Regions from separate parts of the Homo sapiens genome. Here region 2 is linked to region 1. The links come from fine-mapping of genetic effects on gene expression. A gene starts in region 1. The other region holds a variant in brackets. All regions are shown on one strand. Distances are between the middles of the regions.

Evidence for each region. PIP is the estimated chance that this variant, and not a neighbour inherited with it, causes the effect.
Region 2: its variant is fine-mapped to the expression of REST in nasal epithelium (TOPMed, PIP above 0.99).

What each region holds. Positions count from the first base shown.
Region 1 is chr4:56,899,557-56,914,848 of GRCh38, forward strand. It overlaps REST (RE1 silencing transcription factor), which reads left to right and starts at 8,344. Exons shown (of 4, transcript NM_005612.5): 1 at 8,344-8,657; 2 at 11,074-11,980. The coding sequence starts at 11,083. RefSeq lists enhancers at 7,801-8,730, 9,661-10,590, 15,212-15,292 and silencers at 7,827-8,121, 8,221-8,610, 8,721-9,570.
Region 2 is chr4:56,947,771-56,963,062 of GRCh38, forward strand. No RefSeq gene overlaps it. Among named protein-coding and RNA genes, the nearest start is that of NOA1, 22 kb to the right of the region's middle. The variant C/T (reference allele first, on the strand shown) is at 5,858.

The DNA.
Region 1 (15,292 bases):
TGAGCTATGATTATGCCACTGCACTCTGGCCTGGGCAACAGAGCGAAACCCTGTCTCTGAATAAATAAATAAATAAGTAAATACAACAATTATGTCACCCCCCAAAATTCCTTTGTGCCCTTTGTAGTCAATCCTCTTCCTTTACCACCAGCCCACGGCAACCACTGATTTGTTTCCATAGCTTGCCTTTCCCTGAATGGTATACACATGGAATTATGAGGTAAGTGGCCTTTTGCATCTGGCTTCTTTCCCTTAGCATAATGCTTTCGAGACTCATCTATGTGGTTGCATGTATCTGTAGTTACTTTATTTTATTATTGAATGAGTCCGGAATACACAGCTGTGGCATAAAAATTATTTTGAGTAGAAGGCCATCTGAGTTCTTGAAATCTCTTATATCCCTGAAAGCAGAGCCTCCCAAAAGAATTCAGTTTTTGTAAATCCCTTCCCAGCAAAGCAACCAGGGACAATTGACTCTTATCACCACTAATGAGAAGTCACTTTCAACCAAGCAAGGTTTGAAGAAAAACAAAAGAAGAGAGAGAAGTCTGCACACCACATCTAAAAGGCATTGTTACAAAACTATCATATCTCCCATCTATTCTCCTAAAGCCCATTTGTCTTTCCAAAAAGTCATTTGTTTTCTCCTAAGTGCCCTTTTCCCTCTCTCCTTCCTCTATTAAGTTGGTATATAGGCCCAGATTCCAACTGCCCCGTGAATCACATTTTTTGATCAAATCTTTTATGTACATTTAATATATGATTAATTGTGTCTTTTCTGGGCTGGGAGCAGTGGCTCATGCCTGTAATCTCAGCACTTTGGGAGGCTGAGGCGGGCAGATAACCTGAGGTCAGGAGTTCAAGACCAGCTTGGCCAACATGGTGAAAGGCTCTCTACTAAAAATGCAAAAATTAGCTGGGTATGGTGCCGGGTGCCTGTAATCTCAGCTACTCCAGAGGCTGAGGCATGAGAATCACTTGAACCTAGGAGGAGGAGGTTGCAGTAGACTGAAATCGCGCCATTGTACTCCAGCCTTGGGGATAGAGAGACTCTGTCTCAAAAAAAAAAAAAAATTTGTCTTTTATGTTGCCAGTATGTCTTTTGTCAATTTGATTTGCATGCCGCCAATGATTAAACCTAAGAGGATAGGCCGGGAGCGGTGGCTCACGCCTGTAATCCCAGCACTTTGGGAGGCTGAGACAATGGGTGGATCGCCTGAGGTCTGGAGTTCGAGACCAGCCTGACCAACATCGAGAAACCCCGTCTCTACTAAAAATACAAAATTAGCCAGGTGTGGTGGCGTGTGCCTGTAATCCCAGCTACTCGGGAGGCTGAGGCAGGCAAATCGATTGAACCCGCAAGTGGAGATGCGGAGGTTGTGGTGAGCCAAGATCATGCCGTTGCATTTCAACCTGGGCAACAAGAGCAAAACTTCATCTCAAAAAACACAAAAAACACAAAAATTAGCTGGGCGTGGTGGTGTGCGCCTGTAGTCCCAGCTACTCAGGAGGCTGAGGCAGAAGAATCGCTTGAACATGGGAGGCAGAGGTTGTAGTGAACCAAGATCGCACCACTACACTCCAGCCTGGGTGACAGAGTGAGATTCTGTCTCAAAAAAAAAAAAAAAAAAAACAACCTAAGAGGATAGAGGAAAAGTTTTTCCTCCCCAACAATATCATTCTATTGAATGGGTAGATACAAATTTGCTTTTCATTCACAGTCTAGACTACTTTTAGGTTGTTTCTAGTTGTTAGACACCTCCCATTTGGGTCTTTAGGTACCACAGGTTTTCAGTTCTCTTGTGTAAATATCTAGGAATGTGATGACTGGATTATATGCTAAGTGTCTATAAGAAAATTCAAGTTTGCAAAAGTGTTGCATTTCCAAAGTTGTTAACAACAGTTTGCATTTCCATCAGCAATATTAGAGTCATAGGCTAGGCAGGCGGTTCACTCCTATAGTCCCAGCACTTTGGGAGGCCAAGGTGGGAGCATCACTTGAGCCCAGGAGTTCAAGACCAGCCTGAAAAATAGTGAGACTATGTCTCCACAAAAAAGAAATTTTAAAAAATTAGCTGGGTGTGGTAGGTCGTACATGTAGTCCCAGCTACTCGGGATGCTGAAGGGGGAGGATCGCTTGAGTCCAGGAGGCAGAGGTTTCAGTGAGCTGAGATCATGACACTGCACTCCAGCCTGGGTGATGCAGCAAGATCCTGTCTCAAGAGAGAAGAGGGAGAGAGAGGAAAAGAGAGAGAGAATTCCAGGTGCTCAGTATCTTTGTCGCATTGTTTTTTTTTTTTTTTTTTTTTGAGACGGCGTCTCGCTCTGTCGCCCAGACTGGAGTGCAGTGGTGCAATCTTGGCTCACTGCAACCTCCGTTTCCCAGGTTCACGCCATTCTCCTGCCTCAGACTCCCAAATGGCTGGGACTACAGGTGCCCACTAACACGCCTGGCTAATTTTTTGGTACTTTTTAGTAGAGACAGGGTTTCACCGTGTTAACCAGGAAGGTCTCGATCTCCTGACCTCGTGATCTGCCCGCCTCGCCCTCCCAAACTACTGGGATTACAGGTGGGAGCCACTGTGCCCGGCTGTAAAGTGCTGTGTTTCGATCTCAGCTTGCTACAACCTCCACCCCCTGGGCTCAAGTGATCTTCCCACCTCAGCCTCCCGAGTAGCTGAGATCACAGGTGCACACCACCACACCTAACTTTTTGTATTTTTGGTAGAGACAGGGTTTTGCCATGATGCCCAGGCTGGTTTTGAACTTCTGACCTCAAGTGATCTGCGCCCCTTGGCCTCCCAAAGTGCTGGAATTATAGGCATGAGAACCGCACCCAGCCCTTGTTGCATTTTATACTTAGCTTTTTAAACTTTTAGCCATTCTAGTAGGTTTAGTGATAATTTTTAGACAAACAAGGAAAATGTACAGGTTCATTAATCTAGGAAACATTTATGCATAAAGCCAGTGCCTGGCTTTAGCTTTGGGTTGATACACTTTGCCAGAAGTTTGATTTTATTTACTGTGTCAGGAATATCAGCATGTTGAGAACACACAACACAGTTTCTTGTCTCTAGACCCTCTCAGACAGATGAGAAAGACATGGGAAAGAAAACAGGCGCAAGAGTATACTTATGGCACTTTAGGAGTTCATGTGGGAAGGTTTTAACCTCTCCTTGGGAAGAAGGGAAAGGTTGCCAGAAGTTGTCTTCTGAGTCAAGTCCATATTCCTCTAAATTGATGATTAGCTTTGTAAATTAACATGTCAATGTTGGCTCTTGAGTGTTTTAAATGCCATGGAAGACAATAAGGGCTTCTGCTTCCCAAGCCAGAAGGTAATAAATCTTTTTTTTTTTTTTTCGAGACGTGGTCTTGCTGTGTCACCCAGCTGGAGTGCAGTGGTGTGATCCTGGCTCACTGCAGCCCCAATCTCCTGCACTCAAGCAATCCTCCTACCTCAGCCTCCCAAGTAGCTGGGACTACAGGCACACCTCACCACACCAGCTATTTTTAAAAAATTATTTTTACTAGAGATGAGGTCGCACTGTGTTGCCCAGGCTGGTCTCGAACTCTTGGGCTCAAGTGATCTTTCCACTTCGGGCTCCCTAAGTGCTGGGATTACAGGCGTGAACCACTGGGCCTGGCCCAGAAGGTAATTAATCTTAATATAAAAAGTAGGCTTCAGAGTTATGGAATTGCGGATCTGAAAAGTCCCCCTATCTCAAATATATACATCTCTAAAGCCATTGTACATAGTGGCCCATCAGGCCCCAAAGATTAAAAGATGTTTTCGGGAATAGGGCCAGGGTAGAGCAGAAAGAAGACTGGACAAAGTGTCTGAGAGACATGGAAAGAGCACCGGACTGGCTGGAAATTGAGTCATGGGTCCTACCTCCATCTGTGCCCTAACTACTTGTGCAAACCTGGACAAGCCAAAAGCTTGTAGGCCTGTCTCCTTTTACATATAAAACAAGAGCCTGCACCTCTAAGATCTCTTGCATTTGTGACATTTTGTGGCCTACATAACATTTGGAGGGAGAATTCTGGAAGGAAGGACAATGGTAAAGGCCAGAGAAGAGAGAGGCAGAGCAATGCAGTTGATAGGCTATGTAACTTGTATTTAAACCCATCAAATGGAACGATACCTAAGGTTGAAACATTTTTTTTTTTTTTTGAGATGGAGTTCTGTTCTTGTTGCCCAGGCTGGAGTGCACTGGCACGATCTCTGCTCACGCAACCTCCGCCTCCCAGGTTCAAGCCATTCTCCCGCCTCAGCCTCTTAAGTAGCTGGGATTACAGGCGTGTGCCACCATGCCCAGCTCATTTTGTATTTTTAGTAGAGACAGGGTTTCTCTATGTTGGTCAGGCTGGTCTAGAACTCTCGACTTCAGGTGATCTGCCTGCCTCAGCCTCCCAAAGTGCTGGGATTACAGGCGTGAGCCACCGCACCTGGCCAAAACAGATTGTTAATGATCACCAAGGAATATCCAACCAGAGGCTGATGCGTGAAATCAGGAATGTGCTAGGAATACAATATGCAGAAGAGCAGGCAGGGAGATTTTCACCAGGAGGGTAGAACCCCAAGACCAGGGATCCAGGAGCATTAATTTATTTAACAGTAGTTATTAGGGAGATTCAAGGAGGCAGGCTCATGCTTAACATGAGGGAAGACTGTGATGGGTACTGAACGTTGGGTACCGACATGGGTAAGGATGGTCCCCACTTTGAGAGATTGTGATACCAAGCTAGGATTTTGTAACCATTCATCTAACTAATATTTGTTGAGCAACTAACGAGTTATAGGTGCTGGGGATAAAAAAATGTCTCTGCCTTTCTGGAGCTTAAGTTCCTAAGTAGGGTAAATAAATAAAAATACCTAGCATGTTAGTAATAAATGTTAGAGACAGAAACAGCAGGGAAGGGCATTAGGATTGGACGAAAATGGGAGCAGAAACAGCAGGGAAGGGCATTAGGATTGGACGAAAATGGGAGCGGGTTCCAAATGTGATCTAGGCTCCAAAAGAAGGCAGGAAGGAGCCCAGCTCAAGTCTCAAGTTCTCTTGTTCACCTCCTTCCCTTCTCAGCATGAAGGGAAAACCTCCCTGGCTCAAGCTGTTGATGCCTATAATGAGTAAGACACTATTCCAGTTATCAGAACCAGAACAAGAGGTCAGAGTCCAACCGGCAGCAAGAGTAGATGATGCTGGCTGGACTCGGTGGCTTACACAGGTAATCCCAGCACTTTGGGAGGCCGAGGCGGGTGGATCACCTCAGGTCAGGAGTTCGAGACTAGCCTGACCAACATAGTGAAACCCCATCTCTACTAAAATACAAAAATTAGCTGGGCGTCCTAGCGGGTGCCTGTAATCTCAGCTACTCGGGAGGCTGAGGCAGGAGAATTGCTTGAACCCAGGAGGCAGAGGTTCCAGTGAGCCAAGATCTTGCCACTGCATTCTAGCCTGGGCGACAGAGCAAGACTCCCAGGCGGGGTGGCTCACACCTGTAATCCTAGCACTTTGGGAGGCCCAGGCAGGTGGATCATCTGAGGTCAAGAGTTCAAGACCAGCCTGGCCAACATGGTGAAACACCATCTCTACTAAAAATACAAAAATTAGCCAGACAAGGTGGCACGTGCCTGTAATCCTAGCTACTCGGGAGGCTGAGGCAGGAGAATCACTTGAACCCGGGAGGTGGAGGTTGCAGTGAGCCGAGATCGCACCTTTGCATTCCAGCCTGGGTGACAGAGCAAGACTCCATGTCAAAAAAAAAAATAATATATATATATATATATAATTGGCCAGGTGTGGTGGCTCACGCCTGTAATCCCAGAACTTTGGGAAGCCGAGGCAGGCGGATCACCTGAGGTTGGGAGTTCGAGACCAGCCTGACCAACATGGAGAAACCCCCGTCTCTAACTAAAAATACAAAATTAGCTTGGCGTGGTGGCACATGCCTGTAATCCCAGCTACTCGGGAGGCTGAGGCAGGAGAATTGCTTGAACCCGGGAGGCGGAGGTTGCGGTGAGCCGAGATCGTGCTATTGCACTCCAGCCTGGGCAAAAAGAGCCAAATTCTGTCTCAAAAAAAAAAAAAAAAAAAAAAAGAAAGAAATCTCTCTAGAGAAAATACTATTAAGAACATATGATAATTAAAATAAAAAAATTGATGAGTTAAATATGCAGGAAAAAAACCATATAAGAAAAGCAGAACTCATTCTCATTTCAGAGTTTTTATCTTGCAGAAGATCCTAAAGTTTGGATACAGCAAAGTAAAATACAGACTTTTGAAAAACAGTTAGGAATTCAAGTTCATAGCAACAGCTTCCCTCAAGAAAATTTTCAATTGATTTGTAATTTGGCCTATGAATTTGACCTGTGGCCTTCATGTCATGATAATTTGGGTCACTCTGAATATGCCATCCCTTGAACAAGGGCCTCTGCTAATTTTAAATGAATGCAGCTGCCCATTCGCCATTCTTCTATTTGCATCACAATATGTGGGAATAAATTTGCAATTAATAAGACATTTCCAGTAAGCAGTCAGATTGAGGAAATGAAGGACATTTAGTAAGTTTAACAAGAGACATTTCATTTTTGCCTTTTTGGACCTAAAAAAGGGAAAGAAAACAAGTTTATGTCTTTGACAACCTTGGTAGAGGCCTGAATTGTACCCTGGGCTACAGCATCTAAAAAAGCCATGTGACCTCAAACTTGATTTTAGTTAAACAAATAAAATATATATAGAAAAGTTTGTACCAGTCCTAAAAATGTCGATCTTCCTTTCCTCCCTCCCTCCCTCCCTTCCTTCCTGTCTCTTTGGTTCAATGAAAATGAATACTTTTCAGGTTTGATTCATGGAGAGGTGTTACATTTGAAATTGCCTCATTGAAACTTTTGGTGGTCGAGCACCTTAGGGTCTTCATTTCATCTTGCATCGGAGACTGCATTAATTAGTAATATATTGTCCAGATAGAGGGAAACAGAGGTCCTACGTGGGTATACCAGGAAATGAAGAGTCTGGAAGCCCTGCCCTAAGAGAAACAAATAAAGGAACTTCAAAGAGAAGGAAGTGAGGTACCCTGAGGAGAAGCTGGGATGTCTTAACAACTGCTTTGGGATTTTGAGCTTGCCCTTTTCACTGTGTAGAGTGTTCCTTGCCCTACTTTCCACCTGTTGAAGTTTTCCTCATTCTCCAAGGTCAGACTGAATACATCTACTGTGAAAAGTTTCTAGAACCTCTTGGGATCCATCTTCCTACTGGCAAACCCCCATAGCACTTGCTACTTATGTTGTAATACCAAGCAATAGTCAGACTTATCTAGGTCAAGTTAAGTAGGGGCTTGAACGCCACACTAAGGGGTTTAAGCTTTAAGCTTGTAGTCATGGGGAGCCACTATGCTTCTGAGGACAGGTGTGACTTACGACTGACGTTTAGGAAGGTATCAAAGGCAGACTGAGAAGCTCTTTCAGGTGTGAAAGGGGGTGGAATTACTCTCTCTCTGTTCTTTTTTGTTGTTTTTGTTTTTGTTAGCACATGACTATGGGCTAGGCATTCCGCTTGGTTATCCCGCTTCATAGACGTGAGCCCGGTTACTCCGACACACCGTGGCCCCAGGCAGCCTCCCCGTCCTCACCACCTTTTCTTCTGTCATCTGAGGGTAATTCCTCCCCTGCAGTCGTGCTTTCCGGGCTCAGCAATGACCTGCTACCTGCCACGTCTAGGGATCTGTCCCCTCAGTCCTCACGCTCACGCTTTCTGAGTCCATAACCTCCTTCCTGAAACGTTTTCTTCTCACTTCTCCCAAACTGACTGCATTCCCCCTCCGGTAGTTTGAAATTTGGAAGACTTTTTTTTTTTTTTTTTTTTTTTACCGCAGACGCTTAAAACGAAGCTTAATTAGTCAAGGACAGCTATGGGTGGAGACTTGAAGAGATCTGAAGGGTATCTTGGAGCGCTTTAGACTTGAGAGGCCGGTGACAATAGCTCTAAAGAGACCCGTCAAAGCCTGCGGATTCTTCTTTTAACAGCTCTATTCTCATGCATGCACGCCAGGGCTGGGGGGAACTTTTGTTGTTTGTTTGTAATAGAAATCGAGAAAGGGAGTGGGGCCCGCCTCTTTTCTGACCTAAGGGCAGGAGTGAGGGGCCGGGAGGATTACGGGCGGCTCCCCCTAGACGCGCCCCCAGGCGAGCTGGAGACTGGGGCACTCCTTGCTTGGTAGAGGGGCGGGGCGCGCCTAGCGGCCACGCGCGCGGGCGTCGGAGGGGGCGTGTCTCGCGGGCGCGCGCGGGCGTCGGAGGGGGCGTGTCCCGCGGGCGGTGGCGGCGGCGGCGGCGCGGACTGGGTGCGCGGCGCAGCGTCCTGTGTTGGAATGTGCGGCTGCCGCGAGCTCGCGGCGCAGCAGCGGAGCGAGCGCCGCCGAGGCCCGGGGCCCCAGACCCTGGCGGCGGCTGCCGCAGCCGAGACGGCAGGGCGAGGCCCGGAGGCCTGAGCACCCTCTGCAGCCCCACTCCTGGGCCTTCTTGGTCCACGACGGCCCCAGCACCCAACTTTACCACCCTCCCCCACCTCTCCCCCGAAACTCCAGCAACAAAGAAAAGTAGTCGGAGAAGGAGCGGCGACTCAGGGTCGCCCGCCCCTCCTCACCGAGGAAGGCCGGTAAGTGGGGCGCTGGGCTGGGGGCTCGGTCAGGGTGGGGGAGGGCCGCCCGGGCGGCGGCAGTGGCGGGACGGGGAGGGCGCGGAAGGACGCGGAGTCAGGCGCTGTCCAGGGCTGATTTGCAGATACTGTGGCTCCGGCGGCGGCGGCCCCGCCGGGCGGGGGCTGGCGGCCGAGCAGGATCGGGTTACACAGCAGCCGCCCGGGGGCTGGGGGCGTTTGTTGGGAGCAGCGCGTCGCCTGGACCCCCTCCCCACTGGAGGCTGGGACGCCGCCTCCGCGCTGGCCCGGACGCTCCACCGAGTCAGGTCCTTTGAGGCCAAGGAGCGGAGCTGCTCGGGCCCGTAGTCCTGAAACTTCCTCTGCTTCCTCCTCCTGCCCCCGGGTCCCACCGCAGCCCCGCGCCGGCCCGCGGCCCTCCTGGCCCCCTCCCCCAGGGCCTCTCCCTGTCGCCGGAAGGCGCCGTTGAGTGCGGCCGGGCGGGTTGAGTCAGCCCCGGGGCCCGGGCGGTTCCGCCTGCGGGGCTGGACAGCGATTTCTGCGCTTCAGCCGTCCGGCGCCGCTGGCCCCCGCGTCCGGCCACCCGACCGCTGGAGCTGGCGGGGCTGGGGCGCGCGTCCTGCCGGGCGCCGTGGGGGAGTGAAGTTCGCAAACTTCCGGGGCGCGGGGGTGGCGGCTGGCCCGTGTGGGGGCCCCCTCCGGCGCTCGGAGCCCGACGCCTCGCGAGGGCGCCCGCGGAGCCTCCCCGGCCCTGGGCGTTGGGCGAGCCCCGGGGCGGTCGGAGGGGCCCGGGGGCGGTCGGAGAAGCCCGGACGCCGGCTGCGCGGTAACTTTCCGTCCTCTCCCGGGACGGGGGCCCTAGGGCTGGGGAGGGGGCTGCCTGGACTCGGGGAGGACTGGTTCCGGCCAAACAGCGCCTCGAGCTTGATCCCCTCCCCCGTTTTAGTGTTGGAGAGCGCAGGAAAAGGCTCAGGACGAGTGTCGGGGCGACTCCCGCGAGTTGGTGTGTAAATGTGTGCAGTGAGCGGGCCGAGGCGAGAGGAAGCGAGAGCGCCCGAGTTTGCAAAGAGCTGCTTTGTGTTTGGTATTTTGAGAAAATGGCCGAATGCCTATTTCAGTTAGGAATGCCGCCGCCGAGGCAGGCGCTGGTGGCAGCAGCACGGAGGAATTCGTGCAGCACGTTGGGCTTTCGGGCTGTGCCTGGACGGTCTTCCTAACAATCGTTAAAATTCCATTTGGGGTGGCAGTTAGGGGTTAGGGAGCAATTAGAAAAGTCGATGTTGGGCCAAATTACCCAATAGCTTGGGCTGTTCAGCCCCGGGACAGCCTTCGCCCTCTGTTTTCTGTGATGGCATTTGCTTCCAACTTTTGTTGGTACGTAGAACTAAACCGGTTTGTGTTTATACACTTGGGTGAAGCGGGTTACTTTTTGTATTTTCGGTTTAACTTTATTTTCTTAGAACTTCTTACTTTTTTTAATTTGCGAGTGAACACTTCGTTTGAGAATGGCACCTTTTAGATTGAGAAGTAACGTAGCATCTAGAAAGCCCAACTTGTTTTGAAGAAGGTGATCTTGTAATGGCTTCCACTAGGCAAGTAGGCCAAGTCAAGCACAATGCAAGAAAGTTGCTGATTGTCGAGTTGAGTTGCACGATGATTTTATTCGTATTGAAAAGCTTGGAATTCAGTGTTGTGGAACTTCAGCCTGCAGAAAAATAAGCTTATTAATTTTTATTTGTGAAGTTTTGAATAAATCAAACTTCCTTTTTCACAAGAAAAGGGGTCCATAAATGTTTTTTCTTTTAAGCCTGTGGAGTTGTCGAAAAATTAAGGGGCTGACTGCTACTTTTTCACAGTAGTTTATTCTTTTGGAGTTAGTTGAGTTCATGCGAAATCCAATTAAGTTGAACAATTATTACAGGCTTGTACTTTCCAGATGTGTTTGTGTACTTAATAAATGCACTGAATGGCTTGTGGATTTCTGGGCTTTCTGATTCAGACCATTGAACTGTTGAAGGGGGGAAAAGTTGGGAGGACAATAATTTACTACTCATGTTTTGAATTTTTAAAATAATTTTAACAGTAAAAATGAAGGTTACTTTTTATCCCCACCAGAACAATTAAAAGTGCTTGAGGAGGCACCACATGCCAGTGGCTGAATGATGAATGAGTTGTGCAAACAATTGGTAGAATTGTTTTATAGGGATAGTAGAAATTTTTTTTTGGTGATTGCAGTAGACTATTGGGAATTAACAACTATTTTAAAGATTTGTTTTTAATAGGCGATGAAGTTTACTGAGTTATAAAGATCATACTGGAAAATTTTTAAGTTATGAAGAATTACAGCGATGTGGTTTTAAGCCAGTAACAGTAGTGTTTAAACTGGTGCTCTTGTTTTGTTTTGTTTTTAATTCAGAATACAGTTATGGCCACCCAGGTAATGGGGCAGTCTTCTGGAGGAGGAGGGCTGTTTACCAGCAGTGGCAACATTGGAATGGCCCTGCCTAACGACATGTATGACTTGCATGACCTTTCCAAAGCTGAACTGGCCGCACCTCAGCTTATTATGCTGGCAAATGTGGCCTTAACTGGGGAAGTAAATGGCAGCTGCTGTGATTACCTGGTCGGTGAAGAAAGACAGATGGCAGAACTGATGCCGGTTGGGGATAACAACTTTTCAGATAGTGAAGAAGGAGAAGGACTTGAAGAGTCTGCTGATATAAAAGGTGAACCTCATGGACTGGAAAACATGGAACTGAGAAGTTTGGAACTCAGCGTCGTAGAACCTCAGCCTGTATTTGAGGCATCAGGTGCTCCAGATATTTACAGTTCAAATAAAGATCTTCCCCCTGAAACACCTGGAGCGGAGGACAAAGGCAAGAGCTCGAAGACCAAACCCTTTCGCTGTAAGCCATGCCAATATGAAGCAGAATCTGAAGAACAGTTTGTGCATCACATCAGAGTTCACAGTGCTAAGAAATTTTTTGTGGAAGAGAGTGCAGAGAAGCAGGCAAAAGCCAGGGAATCTGGCTCTTCCACTGCAGAAGAGGGAGATTTCTCCAAGGGCCCCATTCGCTGTGACCGCTGCGGCTACAATACTAATCGATATGATCACTATACAGCACACCTGAAACACCACACCAGAGCTGGGGATAATGAGCGAGTCTACAAGTGTATCATTTGCACATACACAACAGTGAGCGAGTATCACTGGAGGAAACATTTAAGAAACCATTTTCCAAGGAAAGTATACACATGTGGAAAATGCAACTATTTTTCAGACAGAAAAAACAATTATGTTCAGCATGTTAGAACTCATACAGGTAAGAGAAGCTTTCTAGTCCATAAGTTCAGTTCTCTTTTCTGATTGTTACTTGAGTGGTTAGTTAAGTAGTGCTTGAGAAAAAGGACTCTGGTTCAAATCCAGGTTCCATTTTGCTATCTTTGTGACCTTGCACAAGTTGTTTAACCTCTTTGTTCAGAAATTTCTCCATGGAGTAACAATATCTAGGTTGGGAGGATTATGTGAAGTTACATGTAAAGCACAGAGGAACAGCCAAGAGATCTTACCGTGGTCTTACTAAAGTACATATCCTAACTTGGGGTTTACCTTCAGCAAGTTAGACTGGCCGTGCATGGTGGCTCACGCCTGTAATCCCAGCACCTCGGGAGGCCGAGGCGTAAGGACTGCCTGAGCCCAGAAGTTCTAGACCAGTCTGGGAAACGTGGAAAGACCCCCGTCTCAAAAAGAAAACAGAAAAAAAAAAGTTTGTGTATTTATTTCTGTGACAGTGAACACATTTAAGATGCAGTGTAGTTTCTGAAAGAAATTGAGGGCTTATATAAAAAGGAAAACTCAGTGATTAACCTTGCACATGCCCACTTAACAAAAGCCTCAAACTTTAAAACATTTGACTTATAGCATTGAGTTCCTAAATGGAACAACTTGTCTTTGTCCACAAAAAAGAAATGTGAGAAGGTAGTTTTTAAAAGGTGGGTGGGATTATCACCAATTGAAACTATTTTCCTATGAAAGCAAACACTTGTAGAAAATGTATTTTTCAGACAATTATGTTTAGGGTGTTTGAACTGATACTAAGCGCAACTGTATAAAAAAAGTTGAAACTTTTTTTTTTTTTTTTTTTTTGAGACAGTCTGGCTTTGTCGCCCAGGCTGGAGTGCAGTGGCAAGATCTCAGCTCAGTGTAACCTCTGCCTCAGGGTTCAAGTGATTATCTTGCTTCAGCCTCCCTGGCTCAGCCTCCCGAGTAGCTGGGATTACAGGCACCCACCACCGTGCCTGGCTAATTTTTTTTTTTTGAGACGGAGTCTGGCTCTGTTGTCGAGGCTGGAGTGCAGTGGCATGGTCTTGGCTCACTGCAACCTCTGTCTCCCAGGTTCAAGCAGTTCTCCTGCCTCAGCCTCCTGAGTGGCTGGGACTATAGGTGCCCACCACCACACCCAGCTGATTTTGTATTTTTAGTAGAGATGGGGTTTCACCATGTTGCCCAGGCTGGTCTTGAACTCCTGACCTCGTGATCCGCCCACCTCAGCCTCCCAGAATGCTGGGATTACAGGCGTGAGTGCCACCCCTGGCTAATTTTTGTATTTTTAGTAGAGATGGGGTTTTGCCATATTGGCCAGGCTGGTCTCAAACTCCTGACCTCAGGTGATCTACCCACTTTGGCCTCCTAAATTGCTGGGATTATAGGGGTGGGCTACCGCACCCAGCCGAAACTTTTTTTTTTTTTTTAATTTCTTTTTGTGGAGATGGGGGGTCTCACTATGTTGCCCAGGCTGGTCTTGAACACCTGGCCTCAAGTGATCCTCCTGCCACAGTCTTCCCAAGTGTTGGGATTATAGGCGTGAGCCACTGTGCATACTAGTCATTCACTTTTAAATTGGGTTTTATTCAGCTGCTGTTCACTGTAGTTTTTTTAATTGGATTTATTTATTCATTTATTGATTTATTTGAGATGGAGTCTCACCCTGGAGCCCAGGCAGTGGTGTGATCACAGCTCACCACAGCCTCTACCTCCTGGGTTCAGGCAGTCCTCCCATCTCAACCTCCAAAGTAACTGGGACTACAGATGTGCCCTACCACACCCTAATTTTTTAAAATTTAAATTGGGTTTTAAATATTGTAATTGAGGGGCCTCATTTTTCAAATAAATGTTTTTAACTATTGGTAGCTCATTTGGACATTTCTGTTACATTTTCTTGGTAAGAATTGGTACATTTGGGTCCTGATGAATGGATAGAGAATAATCCAGTACTCTACTCTTGGGGTCACAAATGAATAGGGGGTGTGGGATGCTGTTTGCCTCAGGTCTCCTCTTACAGGAGTTGGCACTTGACAGGACTGAACCCCACTGGTAAAGGGGACACTGAGGAGGGGAATTGATGCTGCTTTAAGTGGAGTGGTAGACTTAATTTTTGTTTTGTTTTGTTTTGGAGATAGGATCTCCCTCTGTGCCCCAGGCTGGAGTGCAGTGACGCGATCTCGGCTCACTACAACCTCCACCTCCCAGGTTCAAGCGATTCTCATGCCTCAGCCTCCCCAGTAGCTGGGATTATAGGTGCCCACCACCATGGCTAGCTAATTTTTTGTTTTTTTAGTAGAGATGGGGTTTCACTATGTTGGCCAGGCTAGTCTCGAACTCCTGACCTCGTGATCTGCCTCGGCCTCCCAAAGTGCTGGGATTACAGGCGTGAGCCACCGCGCCTGGCCAGTTTTTTTTTTGAGATAGTTTTACTTTGTCACCCATCCTGGAGTGCAGTGGCGAGATCACTGCTCACTGCAGCCTTGACCTCCTGGACTTGTGACCCTCTCGCCTCAGTCCCCCAGGTAGCTGGGACCACAGACGCATGCCACCACACCTGGCTGATATTTGTATGGTAGAGACAGGGTTTCGCCATGTTGCCCAGATTGGTCTGTAACTCCTGAGCTCAAGTAATCTGCCCTTAGCCTCCCAAAGTGCTGGGATTATGGGTGTGAGCCACCGTATCCAGCGACTTAATTTTTAAAAATTTATTTTATTTACTTATTTTTTATATCCCAGATACTTAAAACTATTAACTGGCAGGCTTAAACAATAAAACTTGCAGGTGAAATTCCATTACAAGAGTGACCTCTGTTACAGGATTGCTAAGCCCCAGCAGATGGATGGCTCATGTGTTGAATGCTTTAAAATTTAGTCCAGTAAAAGAATTTGTAGTCCCTTTGGAATTTGTCATAAGCTGTGATTGATTGTCTCGATGCTTTGAAACCATTCGATTTCAGAAGTAAAGGTCAAGCATTACAAAAATACATAAAGTAGGAAATGAAAGTTACTTGGGGACACAACCCCATTAATCACTTGACAGTTTGAATTAGACAGACTGTTAGACTAAACCAGCCTTACCTACAATATCTTAAATCCCAGCCATCATATATACTAAACTCATAAATAAGTACACCATATTCATTTAGCTGGGATTACAGGTGCCTTCCACCATGCCCGGCTAATTTTTGTATTTTCAGTAGAGATGTGGTTTCACCGTGTTGGCCAGGCTAGTCTTGAACTCCTGACCTCAGGTCGTCTGCCCACCTCAGCCTCCTGAAGTGCTGGGATTACAGGCCTGAGCCACCAAGCC
Region 2 (15,292 bases), 48 kb after region 1:
CTACAGAGCAAGACTCCGTTTCAAAAAAAAAAAAAAAAAAGTAGAGGAATAAAAGAATGGCTACTCCATAGACAAAGCAGCCCCAAGAGCTGTTGGTTGCCTATTTTTGTGGTTATTTCTTGATGACATGCTAAACAAGGGGCGAATTATTCATGCCTCCCCTTTTAGACTGTGTAAGGTAACTTCCTCACGTTTGTAAACTGTTATGGTGCTGGTTGGAGTGTAGCAGTGAGGACAACCAGAGGTCACTGTCGTCGCTAGTTTGGTTTTGGTGGGTTTTGGCCGGCTCCTTTACTGCGACCTGTTTTATCAGCAAGGTCTTTATGACCTGTAGTTTGTGCTGATCTCCCATCTCATCCTGTGACATAGATGCCTTAACTATTTGGCAATGCAGCACCTTAGGTTTTAGCTCATTTTACCCAGCTCCTATTTAAGATGGAATTGCTCTGGTTCACATTCCTCTGACATTTCCCCCGGCCCTTTTATAGGAGAACCCTTAATCCTAAAGGTTGCAGGGGGATTAAGATCTATCTTCTGTAACTTCTTCAGGCTGAATAGGGGGCGAAGATATTTCTGCCTAACTATGAGGGTCTCTTGCTAATTAGGGTAGAGAGGAGCTCAGTCAGAAAGCATCAGTATGGTAAGGTCCATTCATAACTCTTGAGTTTTGACAAAAGGTGATATCTGGAAGATTAGTGTTTAAGAAAATATTTAGTAAGCTTGTCCTGTATTCCTACACAAAGAGTATAACAGCAATATATTGCACAAGAGTAAAGCAAAATAAGTAAAGTTATTCCAAGTAAACTAAATTAGAAGGCTTTTCATGAACTGGGCAACTGTTGGAACTAAGCTGATACAGGGTTGTTAGCTGATTGTAATGTGTCCAGAATAAGAATATTGATCCAGATTTTTACATTACCCATCCTCTTGTTTCTTCAGAGCAGCAGTCAGAGATTACTGCTTGGTTCACAGGAATAAGCAACGTTAGCCTAAATCGCAGAAACAAACTTAAAAATAACTAATGAGACTAGAATTTAATAACAAGTGTAGCATAGTTCTTGAAACATAATATTTCTCTCCAGTTTCCTATTTTTACTAAAGAGAAATCATGATAAGACTGATTTGCTTTATTATACTTGGCCTGATTATATGTATAAAGTGCAGCAAGAATAATTATTTTTTACATAAGCTCTTTTTAAATTGGCTTTGATGGAACTCTGTTCCATAGAAGGAATTTCAGATAAGACTTTTTTTCTTTTTGCTATTAACTTTTTTTTTTTTTTTTTTTTTTACCATTCATTCAACTGTTTGCTCAGAGAGAAACCAGAAATCTGACTGGTAAGAAATTCTTATCTTTTTCCCGGGATGCCAGGCTTCTGGGTTCCCTTTCCCTGAGTGGCCCTAGTGATGTGGCTTGTGGCACCATCGCCCTGGGGGCCAAGCAGCATCATAAAGGTAAATTTTTTTTTTGTTCTGGCTAGAGCAAAATATGTGTGATAAAACATAGACATTAGCCATTCTGCTTAGCACCCAATATCAAACTGGCAAGGCTTAAATTTGCCCCTAGATGGACCCTGTCATCTTTTTTTCTCTTCTTTCTTTCCTTTTTTTTTTTTTTGACAGAGTCTTGCTCTGTCACCCAGGCTGGAGTGCAGTGGCATGATCTCAGCTCACTGCAACCTCCGCCTCCCAGGATCAAGTGATTCTCCTGCCTCAGCCTCTTGAGTAGCTGGGATTACAGTCACGTGCCACCACGCCTAGCTAATTTTTGTATTTTTAGTAGAGACAGGGCTTTACCATGTTGACCAGGCTGATCTCGAATGCCTGACATCGTGATCCACTCGCCTTGGCCTCCCAAAGTGCTGGGATTACAGGTGTGAGCCACCGCGGCCGGCAACCCTGTCATCCTTAATCCAGCCTCCGACTTGGAGTTTCAACACATGGACTCTGGGCAATATGGTTGCCCTGAGTAGCAGAAAAGATTAAAAAGAAAAAAAAAAGGGAAAGGAGAGAGAAAAAAGCATTGCCTGTGGCAGGGTGGGGAAGGCAAAATGCTCAGAGAGGCCAGAGAAAGACCCACCCATTGCAGCAACACTGAAAAGTTCAGGTGTCTGCGGCTGCTGTCATGAAGGTATCTTTTCCGGCAGTCGCATCAGCTCTCAAGTTTCCCCTTATAGGGAGGAAAAAGCTCCCCATGACCCACGATCCTGTACATACCTAATCCTGTCACCCACAGCCATCAGCAAAGAATGCAAGGCAGATTAATACAAAGAGCGTAGCCTGCAGTGCCAAACCCCTTTTAGTTGAGAGGTAGACTTTACTGAGAGGGGTCTCTAACCCCCTAAATCTTAGAAGGGACTCTAACCCGCTGTTAGTCAAGCATCCTTGCCTTTTATTAAGAGGGGCCTCTAAACTACTCTGTCTTAGGGGAGACTCTAACTCCCCTAAGTTGGGTCTCTAACCCAATCCCATTCTTTACCTGGGTACCCCACCACTTACCCAAAGTCGTCCAATCACTGCTGGAGTCTATTTCCTTTGGGTCAGGGGGTCTCCTCGGTATTGCCCCTTTTGTGGTTTGCAAGATAGATGTTACCAGACCCCACTACTTACCCAATGTTAGCCTTTGGGTCGGGAGTTCCTGCAGTATAGTCACTTCCCTGGTCACCAGAAAGATGTTACAGGACCCCAACATTCACCCAAAGGTAGCTGTTGGGTCAAGGTTTCTGCACTATAGTCTCTTCTGTGGTCACCAGAAATATGTTTCAGGAAAGGGGGTCCCGATCCAGGCCCCAAGAGAGGGTTCTTGGATCTCACGCAAGAAAGAATTCAGGGCGAGTCCACAATGCAAAGTGAAAGCAAGTTTATTAAGAAAGTAAAGGAGTTGGGCATGGTGGCTCACCCCTGTAATCCCAGCACTTTGGGAGGCTGAGATGGGTGGATCACTTGAGATCAGGAGTTCGAGACCAGCCTGGCCAACATGGTGAAACCCCGTCTCTACTAAAAATACAAAAATTAGCCTGGCATGGTGGTGCATGCCTGTAATCCCATCTGCTCGGGAGGCTGAGGCAGGAGAATTGCATGAACTCAGGAGGTGGATGTTGCAGTGAGCTGAGATCGTGCCACTGCACTCCAGCCTGGGTGACAAAGCAAGACTCTATCTCAAAAAAAAAAAAAAAAAAAAAAAAAGGAAAGGAATAAAAGAATGGCTACTCCATGGACAGAGCAGCCCCGAGAGCTACTGGTTCCCCATTTTTATGGTTATTCCTATGCCAAACAAGGGGTGGATTATTTATGCCTTCTCTTTTTGGACCATGTAGGGTAACTTCCTGATGTTGCTGTGGCATTTGTAAACTGTCATGGCGCTGGTGGGAGTGTAGCAGTGAGGATGACCAGAGGTTGCTCTCATCACCATTTTGGTTTTGGTTGATTTTGGCCGGCTCCTTTACTGCAACGTGTTTTATCAGCAAGGTCTTTATGACCTGTAATTTGTGCTGACCTCCTGTCTCATCCTGTGACTTAGAATGTCTTAACCATCTGGGAATGCAGCACTGTAGGTTTCAGCCTCATTTTACCCAGCTCCTATTTAAGATGAAGTTGCTCTGGTTCACACACCTCTGACATTCATACCTATGTGGGCAATGTGCCTTGTAGCAGAACCTGGAAAATCTCAAGATATTCCCTGAGACCTATGCAGATCCCCAGATTTCAAGTCTTGCCAGAATGCTTGATCACTTTCATTAGAGTAAGTGGCCTCTTCAAACTTAATAACCTTGTAAATATATGATGAAATTAATTCATAAAGCATTTAAAAATCACCTTTTGGCCAGGTGTGGTGGCTCATGCCTGTAATCCTAGCACTCTGGGAGGCCGAGGTGGGCAGATCACTTAAGGTCAGAAGTTAGAGACCAGCCTGGCCAACATACTGAAACCTCGTCTCTACTAAAAATACAAAAATTAGCCAGGCATGGTGGTACACGCCTGTAGTCCCAGTTACTCGGGAGGCTGAGGCAGAAAAATCGCTTGAACGAAGTGGAGGTTGCAGTGAGCCGAGATTGTGCCACTGCACTCCAGCCTGGGCGACAGAGCAAGACTCCATCTCAAAAAAAAAAATTGGCTTTACACCTTTTTGACCAATGTTTTTTTCATCTTGATAGTTTTTACACTAACTGATGGGGACAGTTCAAGTAGTTTCTTTTTGGATTTCAACACTATCACATCTCTAGATACCCCAATATAAGATTCTTTTTTTTTTTTTTTTTTGAGATGGAGTCTCGCTCTTTCACCCAGGCTGGAGTGCAGTGGCGCGATCTTGGCTCACTGCAAGCTCTGCCTCCTGGATTCACACCATTCTGCCTCAGCCCCCCAAGTAGCTGGGACTACAGGCACCCGCCACCGCGCCCGGCTAATTTTTTGTATTTTTAGTAAAGACGGGGTTTCACCGTGTTAGCCAGGATGGTCTTGATCTCCTGAACTCGTGATCCGCCCACCTCGGCCTCCCAAAGTGCTGGGATTACAGGCGTGAGCCACTGCACCCAGCCCCAATATAAGATTCTAGTAAAACATGGAGTTGAAGATGGATTTAGGAACAAAGGGACCTCCTATATGGTTCTCCTTGTTCCCTGCCTCCCCTTCTGTCTCAGTATGGGCCCAGTGTGCTCTGGCAGGACAAGCGGGTGTGGGGAGGGGAGGGATAGAGATGCGAAAATGCTGGCAGATGGCCACTGCTAAAAGGGGTTCTGAAATTACTTCCAGCCACACGGCCTCCCCACCTCTCTCCCTGGTTATGGAGCCAGGAAAAGAAACGAGTTTGTATGGCTTCAGGACCCTCAGCTTGAACTCTGCCTCAAACCCTTGTCCATTTTTCTTTCTTGGAGAGCAGTAGGATACTATTTTGAGACATGAAGGCCCTTCATTTCTGTGTTCTCATTACCTTCCCCATTACAGAGACTTCCCAGGTAGAGGACTTCCTAGGATAGCTTTCTTCTAGTATAAGTACTGGAGCTAGAGGGAGAGATAGCCCAGAATTGAGTCTGCATGGATTTTTTTTTTCATTGAAATTTACCCAAGTAATATGTACACATTAATAAGTAAAAACAAAATATTCCTAAAGGATTTATGATAAAATCAAAAGCTGAAAATCTCTCCCCACTTCTTTGCTCGTCATATAGCAGCTCTGTGTATCAGACTTCTGAGGTAAATTTAAATTAGGATAATATTTCTCTTTTTTTCTTTTCTTTTCTTTCTTTCTTTATTTTTTTTAAGACGGAGTTTCATCTTGTTGCCCAGGCTGGAGTGCAGTGGCGCAATCTTACCTCAACACAACCTCTACCTCCCAGGTTCAAGCGATTGTCCTGCCTCATCCTCCTGAGTAGCTGGGATTACAGGCATGCACTACCATGCCCAGCTACTTTTTATATTTTTAGTAGAGATGGGGTTTCACCATGTTGGTCAGGCTGGTCTCGAACTCCTGACCTTAGGTGATCCACCTGCCTCTGCCTCCCGAAGTGCTGGGATTACAGGCATGAGCCACTGTGCCTGGACTCAGTATTTCTTATTTGATAGATTTATATTGGATTTTTTTTTTTTTTTTTGAGATGGAGTCTCACTCTGTCGCCCAGGCTGGAGTGCAGTGGTGCAATCCCGGCTCACTGCAACCTCCACTTCCCAGGTTCCAGGTTCAAGCGAGTCTTCTGCCTCAGCCTCCTGAGTAGCTGGGACTACAGGCACACGCAACCACACCCAGCTAATTTTTGTATTTTTAGTAGAGGCGGGGTTTCACCATATTGGCCAGGCTGGTCTCGAACTCCTGACCTCGTGATCCACCCATCTTGGCCTCCCAAAGTGCTGGGATTAAAGG[C/T]TTGAGCCACCGTGCCCGGCCTGGATTCACTTTCTATAGGCCAATTAGATAGCACATTATATTTGTATTTTCTTCAGGGTGATCAACGCCAAAAGCTTGTGATGGATTAAAATAGCCACAAATTCCAGTACATGTTTGAATCTGTGCTGCCATTGTGACTTGCTTTGACCAATAAATGCAGCAGAAGTGGCACTGTGTGACTTTGAGCTTCGGCCTCCAGAGGCTTTGCAAGCTCTACTCTCAGGCTTTTTGTGAACACTGTCACCTTGTGAACAAGCTTGAACTAGCCTACTTGAGGATGAGACCCTTGGAAGAGAGAGTGATCAATGGAAAATGCCTCACTTGCTCAGCTGTTACAACCATCTCAGCTGAAACTCCTGTGCGTGAGGTCAGCCTGGCTGTGTGCTGTGTGCAAATGCATGTCGCCACAGAGCAGAAGTACCATTGAGCGGAGCCTAGATTAAGTTGCCAAACTAAAGAATGGGAGCAAATAATCGCTTGGTTCAAGTCACCAAGTTTCAGGGTGGTTTGTTATTCAGCAATAGATGTGGATATAAACCTAATCATGTCCTCAAACCTAGTTAATAAAAAAGAAGCATTTTCAACGAACAAATGAGCAACTGTACCTAGAAGTGACTTACTCCATGCCCAACGGGGGAGTTAGTGGGTACATGGGACAGTTACACATTGTTCTCCTTTGTTGAACAGTCTCTTGTCCACGTTCCCATGCTGAAAAATTTTAACACATTTCTCAGAATTAGCTTTACATAAAGCTTTATTTATCTAATGAAAAAGCTAGTGTTTCAGTAAAATACATCTTTTATCTGGTATTTTAAAGGAAAGCAGCCCCATTTCTTTAATTTGCCTTCCTGTTGAGTATTTCACCATAGTTTTTTTTTTTTTTTTTTTTTTTTAAAAGACAGAGATTCGCTCTTGTTGCCCAGGCGGGAGTGCAATGGCGCGATCTCAGCTCACTGCAACCTCCGCCTCCTGGGTTCAAGCGATTCTCCTGCCTCAGTCTCCCGAGTAAGCTGGGATTACAGGCGCCCGCCACCATGCCTGACTAATTTTGTATTTTTAATAGAGATGGGGTTTCTCCACATTGGTGAGGCTGGTCTCAAACTCCCAACCTCAGGTGATCTGTCTGCCTTGGCCTCCCAAAATGCTGGGATTACAGACGTGAGCCACCGTGCCCGGCCTCACCACAGAGTTTAAAGTCGAAGACAGGGAAAAAAAAGATAAATCTATTTAGGTCAAATGCTAAATGCTGAGCAAAACTTGCAATAATAGAAAGCTTTTAATTGGACAACCCAGTAACTCCTGTTTAGGGAAAGTCAGTAAGATGTAGCAAGAAACAGGCAACTGGATTGAGAGCTACACAAGTAGGAAAAGCAGGGGCATTTAAACAAGTTCAGGGCCAAATTATCAAATTGGTTTTTGAGGCTTTTTGATTTGCAAGTAAATGGGGATCACCGGTTCTAATCTCATGAGTAGGATTAGGATGAAAAATTACAGTCTCTTTTCTATGATAGTTTAGTGTAATTTTTGGATGTTTGCTTCCCAAATTTTCTGTATATCGAATTTACTATTTTCTTAATCAGAATTGTGGGTAAGGATTTCCATGCATGCTGTGATCTGTCCGTGGTACTTGGCAAGCTCATCAGCAATGTGAAAGATTCCCAGCCAGCCAGGGAAGCACAGTCCATTTAAAGCCATCTGAGGTGGTGAGAGAGCATGGAAATCAAACTGGGATACCTGTTTTGGTTTGGGCAGCAGTGCTGAAGTAAGACAGCAAGGGCACAGCACATTACACACACACACACACACACACACACACACACACACTGCTCTGAGACAAATGCTCAGGGAGAAATTATATATGGTAGAATTCAAAGGAAGCCAGAAGGAGATTAAGTGGTAGTTGTCCAGAATTCCCGAGAGAATTGTGCTATTATCTTTGAAGGTCTTCAAAGTAGGTTTCCTTCCTAAGGTTGAAAAATTCTCACCTTTAGATTTGTTGATGGGTTTTAGTATATAGAGGAATTACTGTGCAGTGGTTGAAGACATGGATATTGATGGAACTGTTCTTTTTTTTCTTTTTTTTGAGATGGAGTCTCACTCTGTTGCCCAGGCTGGAGTGCAGTGTTGTGATCTTGGCTCACTGCAACCTCTGCCTCCCGCGTTCAAGGGATTCTCCCTGCCTCAGCCTCATGAGTAGCTGGGATTACAGGTACCCGCCACTATGCCTGGTTAATTTTTGTATTTTTAGTAGAGACGTGGTTTCACCATCTTAGCCAGGCTGGTCTTGAACTCCTGACCTCATGATCCACCTGCCTCAGCCTCCCAAAGTGCTGGGATTACAGGCCACTGTGCCCGGCCAGAACTGTTCTATATTGTGATTATGGTGGTCATTAAACAAACATATACGTGTGATAAAATCCATAGAACTGTACATGAAAACAAAGTCTGTTATAATTAAAAACCCCAGGCTGGGCACACGGTGGCTCACACCTGCAGTCCTAGCACTTTGGGAGGCCAACTCAGGAAGATCGCTTGAGCACAGGGGTTTGAGACCAGCCTGGGAAATATAGTGAGACCTTGTTTCTACAAAAAATTAAAAAATTAGTTGAGTGCGGTGGCGTGTGCCTGTAGTCCAGCTACTTGGGTGGCTGACATGGAAGGATTGCTTGAGCCTGGGAGGTGGGTGCCATAGTGAGCTGAGACTGTGTCACTGCACTCTAGCCTGGGTGACAGAGTGAGAACCTTTTTCAAAATAAAACAACGAAGCCCCACATGAGTTCTGGAGATAGAGTGCCTGGGTTTGTTTGAATCACAGCTCCATCACTTATTAGTTAGATCCTGGGTAAGTTATTTGTGCCTCAGTTTCCTCATCTGTAAATGTGGGTAATAATAGTATTTCTGCATGGGGTTGCTGTAAGGATTCAGTTAATATATGTAAAGCACTTGAAAGAGTGCCTGGCTCATTTTATTACTATATAAGTGATAGCTATTATTATTATTATATAAGTATAAAGGAGTAAAAAGATATATGGGCTATCATATGATTATAGCAACTACGAGTAATCTGAAGTCTGAAATACAACAACCATGAGGTACTGGCTTTATGCAGGAAAGGAAGAAACTCTATAAGAGGTTAGTGTAAATGCTACTAAGCAAATTTAAGTTTGCTCTTTCCCTATTTTCCAGGGAAGGCAAAAACCAAGCAAACAAAAAAATCCTCTCACTCTATTGATCCATTCATTGAATGTCTGCTATTTTCTTTTTCTTTTCTTCTTTTTTTCTGAGACGGAGTCTCACGCTGTCGCCTGGGGCTGGTGTGCAGTGGCACGATCTCGGCTCGCTGCAACTTCTGCCTCCCAGGTTCAAGCAATTCTCCTGCCTCAGCCTCCCGAGTAGCTAGGATTACAGGCATGTGCCACCTTTGTATTTTTAGTTGAGACGGGGTTTCACTATGTTGGCCAGGCTGGTCTCAAACTCCTGACCTCGTGATCCACCTGCCTCGGCCTCCCAAAATGCTGGGATTACCGGGGTGAGCCACCACGCCCAGCCATGCCTGCTATTTTCTAGGGCTTACTGAAAGGTTAGAAAGGATCTTGGCAGTCTTTCACTTCCATATATTTCACTTCCAATATCACCTGACACATGATGATGTATTCTCTAACGTGTCTGCTTGTTTTGTGTATGTGTGACCTCAGTTTTTTCCAATTTACCACAGCTACCAGGTAGAGGTACTGACGGTGTCTGTGATTAAGCATCATACTATTACAGCATCTACCAATAAGAATATTAAGACCAAATAAATTCTCCCACTAGATTGACTACACAGTAGGTAAATTCGGAGAATTATTTGCGAAGCCAAAAGCAGCTTTTGAAAGCAGGAACCTGGGAATCCAAGCAGTGGGTGTTTTGAGGATGATCCAGATACACTTAGGAGTATTCAGATCATGAAACTCCATGACATGAAGGGAAAAGGTGAGGCATCACTGCAATATGATGTTAAAATAGTAATCTTGGCCTGGTGTGGTGGCTCACACCTGTAATCCCAGCACTTTGGGAGGCTGAGGTGGGAGGATTGGTGAAGCTAGGAGTTTGAGACCAGCCTGGGCAACAAAGTGAGACCCTGTCTCTACAAAAATAAAAAATTTAGCTGGGTGTGGTGGCACCTGCCTATAGTTCCAGCTACTCGGGTGGCTGAGGCGGGAGTATCACTTGAGCCCAGGAGGTCAAGGCTGCGTTGAGCTGTGATTACACCACTACACTCCAGCCTGGGCAGCCGAGTGAGACCCTGTCTCTGAAAAAATAAAACAACAACAACAAAACAAAAAACAAAAAAACCTATCTTGAACCATTCCCCTCTCACGACAAGGTCTTAATGGGGGCAGATAATATGACAGAGAGACATTCAGAGCAGGCAGAGGTGTCATCGATTTGATTCACGAGTCTGAAATCTTGTTTTTAATGTTTAAGCATTACTCTTTGACAATTGAGAGAAAACAATCCCCCTGGGAGGAGGAAAGTGGCCAAAAGAAAATGGAACAGCTGAGAAAGAATGGAAATGATTCTAATGCTCCACGACACAGAGCCAAGTGGGAGGGAAGCCAGGGTAAATGATCCGAGCCCGTCTATGAAACAGCCCGCCTCAGCTTGCGCGCTGGGTGCTTACTCAGTGAAGCAATAACAACTCTGTCATGGCTGACACAGCTGGAGCTCCTCCATGTTAGTCAGCTGCAGGAAACCAGCCTATGTCCATTGTGCAAGAAGAGTCTGAACACTAGAGACACAGGCACACAAGATTGCATCTCTACTCCGCTTCTCCTTGGTTGTTATGGGAAGTGAGTGTCTCAAGTTAAATAAACTAGACTCTGGGGAACTATACAGTAAAGACTTAGTGATCGGCACAGCTTGGCATTTATGGTGATTAAAGATACAAAACATATTACAACTTTAATTTGTCTTAGTAACTTTGAAGAAGATGTTGTTATTTTAGTTTAATTAGAGGGGGGAAAAGCAGAGGGATTACGTGTAACTTTTTAAAATAAAACTTTGAACCTAATATCACATAAAAGTCAAAAAGTACTTTGATGGAATTTATTTTACTTCTTTTGGGTGTCATGAATACAAAAGAGGTGACATGCTCAACACCACAGTGCTGCAGAGCCAGGTAAACAATCTAGAATAAACTTGCTTCATTGTTTTCTAGCAACCCCTAACCACCTCTGTGATCTGTGGAAGTGAGGAGTTGGTACTTTGCCCTTAATTTCTCCTCCCGTTCCTGGCCAGAAGAGCCCACTAATTCTTGTACCCTGTCATAGTGTAAGTGACTACTGATTCAAAAGATGTCGTTATATTCAGATTAATGGATAAAGAAGTACAGTCATGTATCGCATAATGACTTCTTGGTCAGCAATGGGCCACATATACAGCCGTAGTCTGGTAAAATTATAATGGAGTCAGAAAATACCTATTGCCTAATGATTTGTGTTACAATTGCCTACAGAATTCAGTACAGCAACATGTTGTACAGGTTTGTAGCCTAGGAGCCATAGGCTATACCATACAGCCTAGGTGTAGAGTAGGCTATACCATCTAGGTTTGTGTAAATACACTTTATGATGTTTGTCCAAAGATGAAATTGCCTAACGATGCATTTCTTAGAACACATCCCTGTTGCTAAGCAATGCACTACTGCACCAATACAGTAATGGAACTTTCTTAAAGGAAAATCTACTAGGAAACACTTGATCCTAGCAGTGATCCTAGGCTGCATTAAATTGGAGGCACAATATGGAATAAATTAATACCAGATCCCAGTAGAAGTCCTCAACTAATTCTAGGCATAGAGCATCTTTCTCACTCTTTTTGCTGGCTTTCTTTCCTGCTTTTTTTTTTTTTGAGATGGAGTCTTGCTCTGTCACCCAGGCTGGAGTGCAGTGGTGCAATCATGGCTTACTGCAGCCTCAACCTCCCAGGCTCAAGGGATCTTCCCACCTCAGCCTCCTGAATAGCTGAGACTACAGGTGGGTGTCACCATGCCCAGCTAAATTAAATTTTTTTTTTTGTAGAGACAGGGTCTTAACTATGTTGCCAGGGCTGGTCTTGAATGCCTGGCTTCAAGGGATCCTCCTGCCTTGGCCTCCCAAAGTGTTTGGATTATGGGTGTGAGCCCTGTTTTCTGAAATACATTTTCTTAAGTTGTCAGGGTGATAGTAGTCAGTTTTTAGATTGTTTCTCCACAAAGGCCCAGTTCACCCTTTGCTGGCTTTCTTTCCTGCCTGTTTTTTGTTTTAATTCTACCTAAATATCCTGGCCTAAGCTCTGAACTGTGAACTCCTGTTTTCAACCATAGGTAGAAATATAATGACCATAATTTTTTTTTTTTTTTTTGAGATGGAGTTTTGCTCTTGTGCCCAGGCTGGAGTGCAATGGCACGGTCTTAGCTCATCGCAACCTCTGCCTCCCGGGTTCAAGCGATTCTCCTGCCTCAGCCTCCCAAGTAGCTGGGATTACAGGCATGTGCCACCACACCTGGCTAATTTTGTATTTTTTTTTTAGTAGAGATGGGGTTTCTCCATGTTGGTCAGGCTGCTCTCGAACTCCCGACCTCAGGTGATCCACCCACCTTGGCCTCCCAAAGTGTTGGATTACAGGTGTGAGCCACCGCACCCAGACACAATTTTAACTTATAAAATAAATGGTATTTCATTCCCTCCAAAATAAAAACTAGAAATCAACTGCCAATCAATTTTCTCCATTTGGGAAGCTGCCGCCCTCTAGAGGTAATATGATGTTGGGGGCACTTTCCAGTTGTCACCAGGACTGACAGCAGAGGGAGTTGCTACTGCATTTAGTGTCTGGGATGAGAGATACCAGACATAATGAAATGCAGTTTTTTTGTTTTTTTTTGAGACGGAGTCTTGCTCTGTTGCCCAGGCTGGACTGCAGTGGCGCGATCTTGGCTCACTGCAGCTTCCGCCTACCAGGTTCCAGGGATTTTCCTGCCCCAGTCTCCGGAGTAGCTGGGACTACAGGCACGCGCCAGCGCAGTCAGCTAATTTTTGTATTTTTAGTAGAGACGGGGTTTCACCTTGTTGGCCAGGATGGTCTCAATCTCCTGATCTCATGATCCGCCCGCCTCGGTCTTCCAAAGTGCTGGGATTACAGGCGTGAGCCACCGCGCCCGGCTGAAATGCAGTTTTATATATAAAGAAAGAACCACCTTGCCCAAGATACCAGTAGTACTCACTTTGAAACACTATGAAAGGTCTACAACAAGTTGCATCATCTTAAAAAATTCTCCATTATATTTAATCTAAGAGGACTTAGAAGAGGACTGAGGAGTGGGGAGAAGACAGGAGAGTGTGAAATACATGGGGGCTCCCATATGTTGGGACAGAACATGGTCCTCTCAGGAATTTCATGGCTCTAACTGCGTTTCAGCCTAGCTTATCTTACCAGCATTTATTTCAACATTAGGATCTGGGACTTGACTTGCCAATTCTTCATGACACAGCTGTGGTACTACTTACTCAGCTAGGAATAACAAAAGGTGTAGACTTTTTCTTTTTTCCTTTTTTCAGACAGGGTCTCGCTCTGTTGCCCAGGCTGGAGTGCAGTAATGTGATCATAGCTCACTGCAGCCTCCATATCCCAGGCTCAAGTGATCCTCCTGACTCAGCCTCTCCAGTAGCTGAGATTACAGGCACACAGCGCCACACCTGGCTAATTTTTTTGGGTTTTAGTAGAGATGAGGTCTTGCTGTGTTGCCCAGGCTGGTCTTGAACTCCTAAACTCAAGCAATCCTCCTGCCTTGGCATCCCAAAATGTTGGGATTACAGGCATGAGCCACTGCTCCTGGCCAATAAAGACTTCTGATTGATGTAATGTTATTCAGTCATATAAAGATGAAATGTAAATAAAATGGTTAAAGTGTCCTCTCAGTTGCAGAATAGACCTCAGTTGCTAGAAATACATAGCTTTTTAAAAATCTTTATTTATTTAGTTTTTTTGGGATGAAGTTTTGCTCTTGTTGCCCAGGCTGGAGTGCAGTGGTGTGATCTCGGCTCACTGCAACTTCCTTCTCCTGGGTTCGTGCAATTCTCCTGCCTCAGCCTCCCGAGTAGCTGGGATTACAGGTGCCCACCACGCCTGGCTAATTTTTGTGTTTTTAGTAGAGATGGGGTTTCACCATGTTGTCCAGGCTAGTCTCTAACTCCTGACCTCAGGTGATCCACTTGCCTTGGCCTCCCAGAGTGCTGGGATTACAGGCGTTGAGCCACTGTGTCCAGCCGACAATTCATTTTTATTAAAAAAAATAATAGAGATGGGGTCTCACTATGTTGACCAGGCTGATCTTGAACTCCTGGCCTCAAGCGATTCTCCTGCCTTGGCTTCCCAAAGTGCTGGGATTACAGGTGTGAGCCACTACATCTGGCCTTGAATCCTTTTTTATCTAAGATTTTCAGGCATTGTCAAATTGTGTAAGGTAAATTTCTACTTGTTCTCTAGTATCCATTCTCCCCATTTTTCCTTAATAAAAACCCCAAATGGTTCCCATTTCCTCCTCCATTTCCCAGCTTCCTTATGGGTGGGTGTGGCCATGTGACTTGACCTGTGGACTATGTAAACTGATGTGTGCAACATCCAGCTTTTCTTCCCTTCTTTTAAATAGGGAAGTTGCTTGCTCTCCATACTTTCCCCCTTTTTACCCTTGCTGGAAAAGGATGACAACTTGGGCAGCCACCTTAGACCTACAGATGGCCATGGAATGTTCCACCAGCTGGATCCTTGGAGCAGAGCCACCTACTCACTTCTATCTTATTTAAGCCAATGAATTTTGGAGAAATTAATTTTCCTGCCATTTTTTCATATACTGACTGCTAACTCCAAATAAGAGAAATGACATCTGGTCTCAATATAAAAAACAGTAGTGAGGCGGGGCATGGTGGCTCACACTTGTAATCCCAGAACTTTAGGAGACCGAGGTGGGTGGACAACATGGTGAGAACTTGTCTCTACTAAAAATACAAAAATTAGCCAGGGGTGGTGGTGCATACCTGTTATCCTAGCTACTCAGGAAGCTGAGGCATGAGAATTGCTTGAATCCAGGAGGTGGAATTTGCAGTGAGCCGAGATTGCACCACTGTACTTCAGCCTGGGTGACAGAGCAAGACCCTGTCTCAAAAAAAAAAAAAAAAAAAAAAAAAGAAACAACAGTAGTGGGAGAAACTTGAATATAGCAGGCTTCCAATTTTATATATATGTGGGTCACAGATACATACCATATACATACTATACAAAAAAAAAAACTTTTTATAAGCTGAATACATTATGAACATAAGTCTTGAATAGTTTAAAAAAGTTAACTGTTAAGAGCTTTGAAAAGGGTGAGGCTGGCCGCGGCGGCTCACGCCTGTA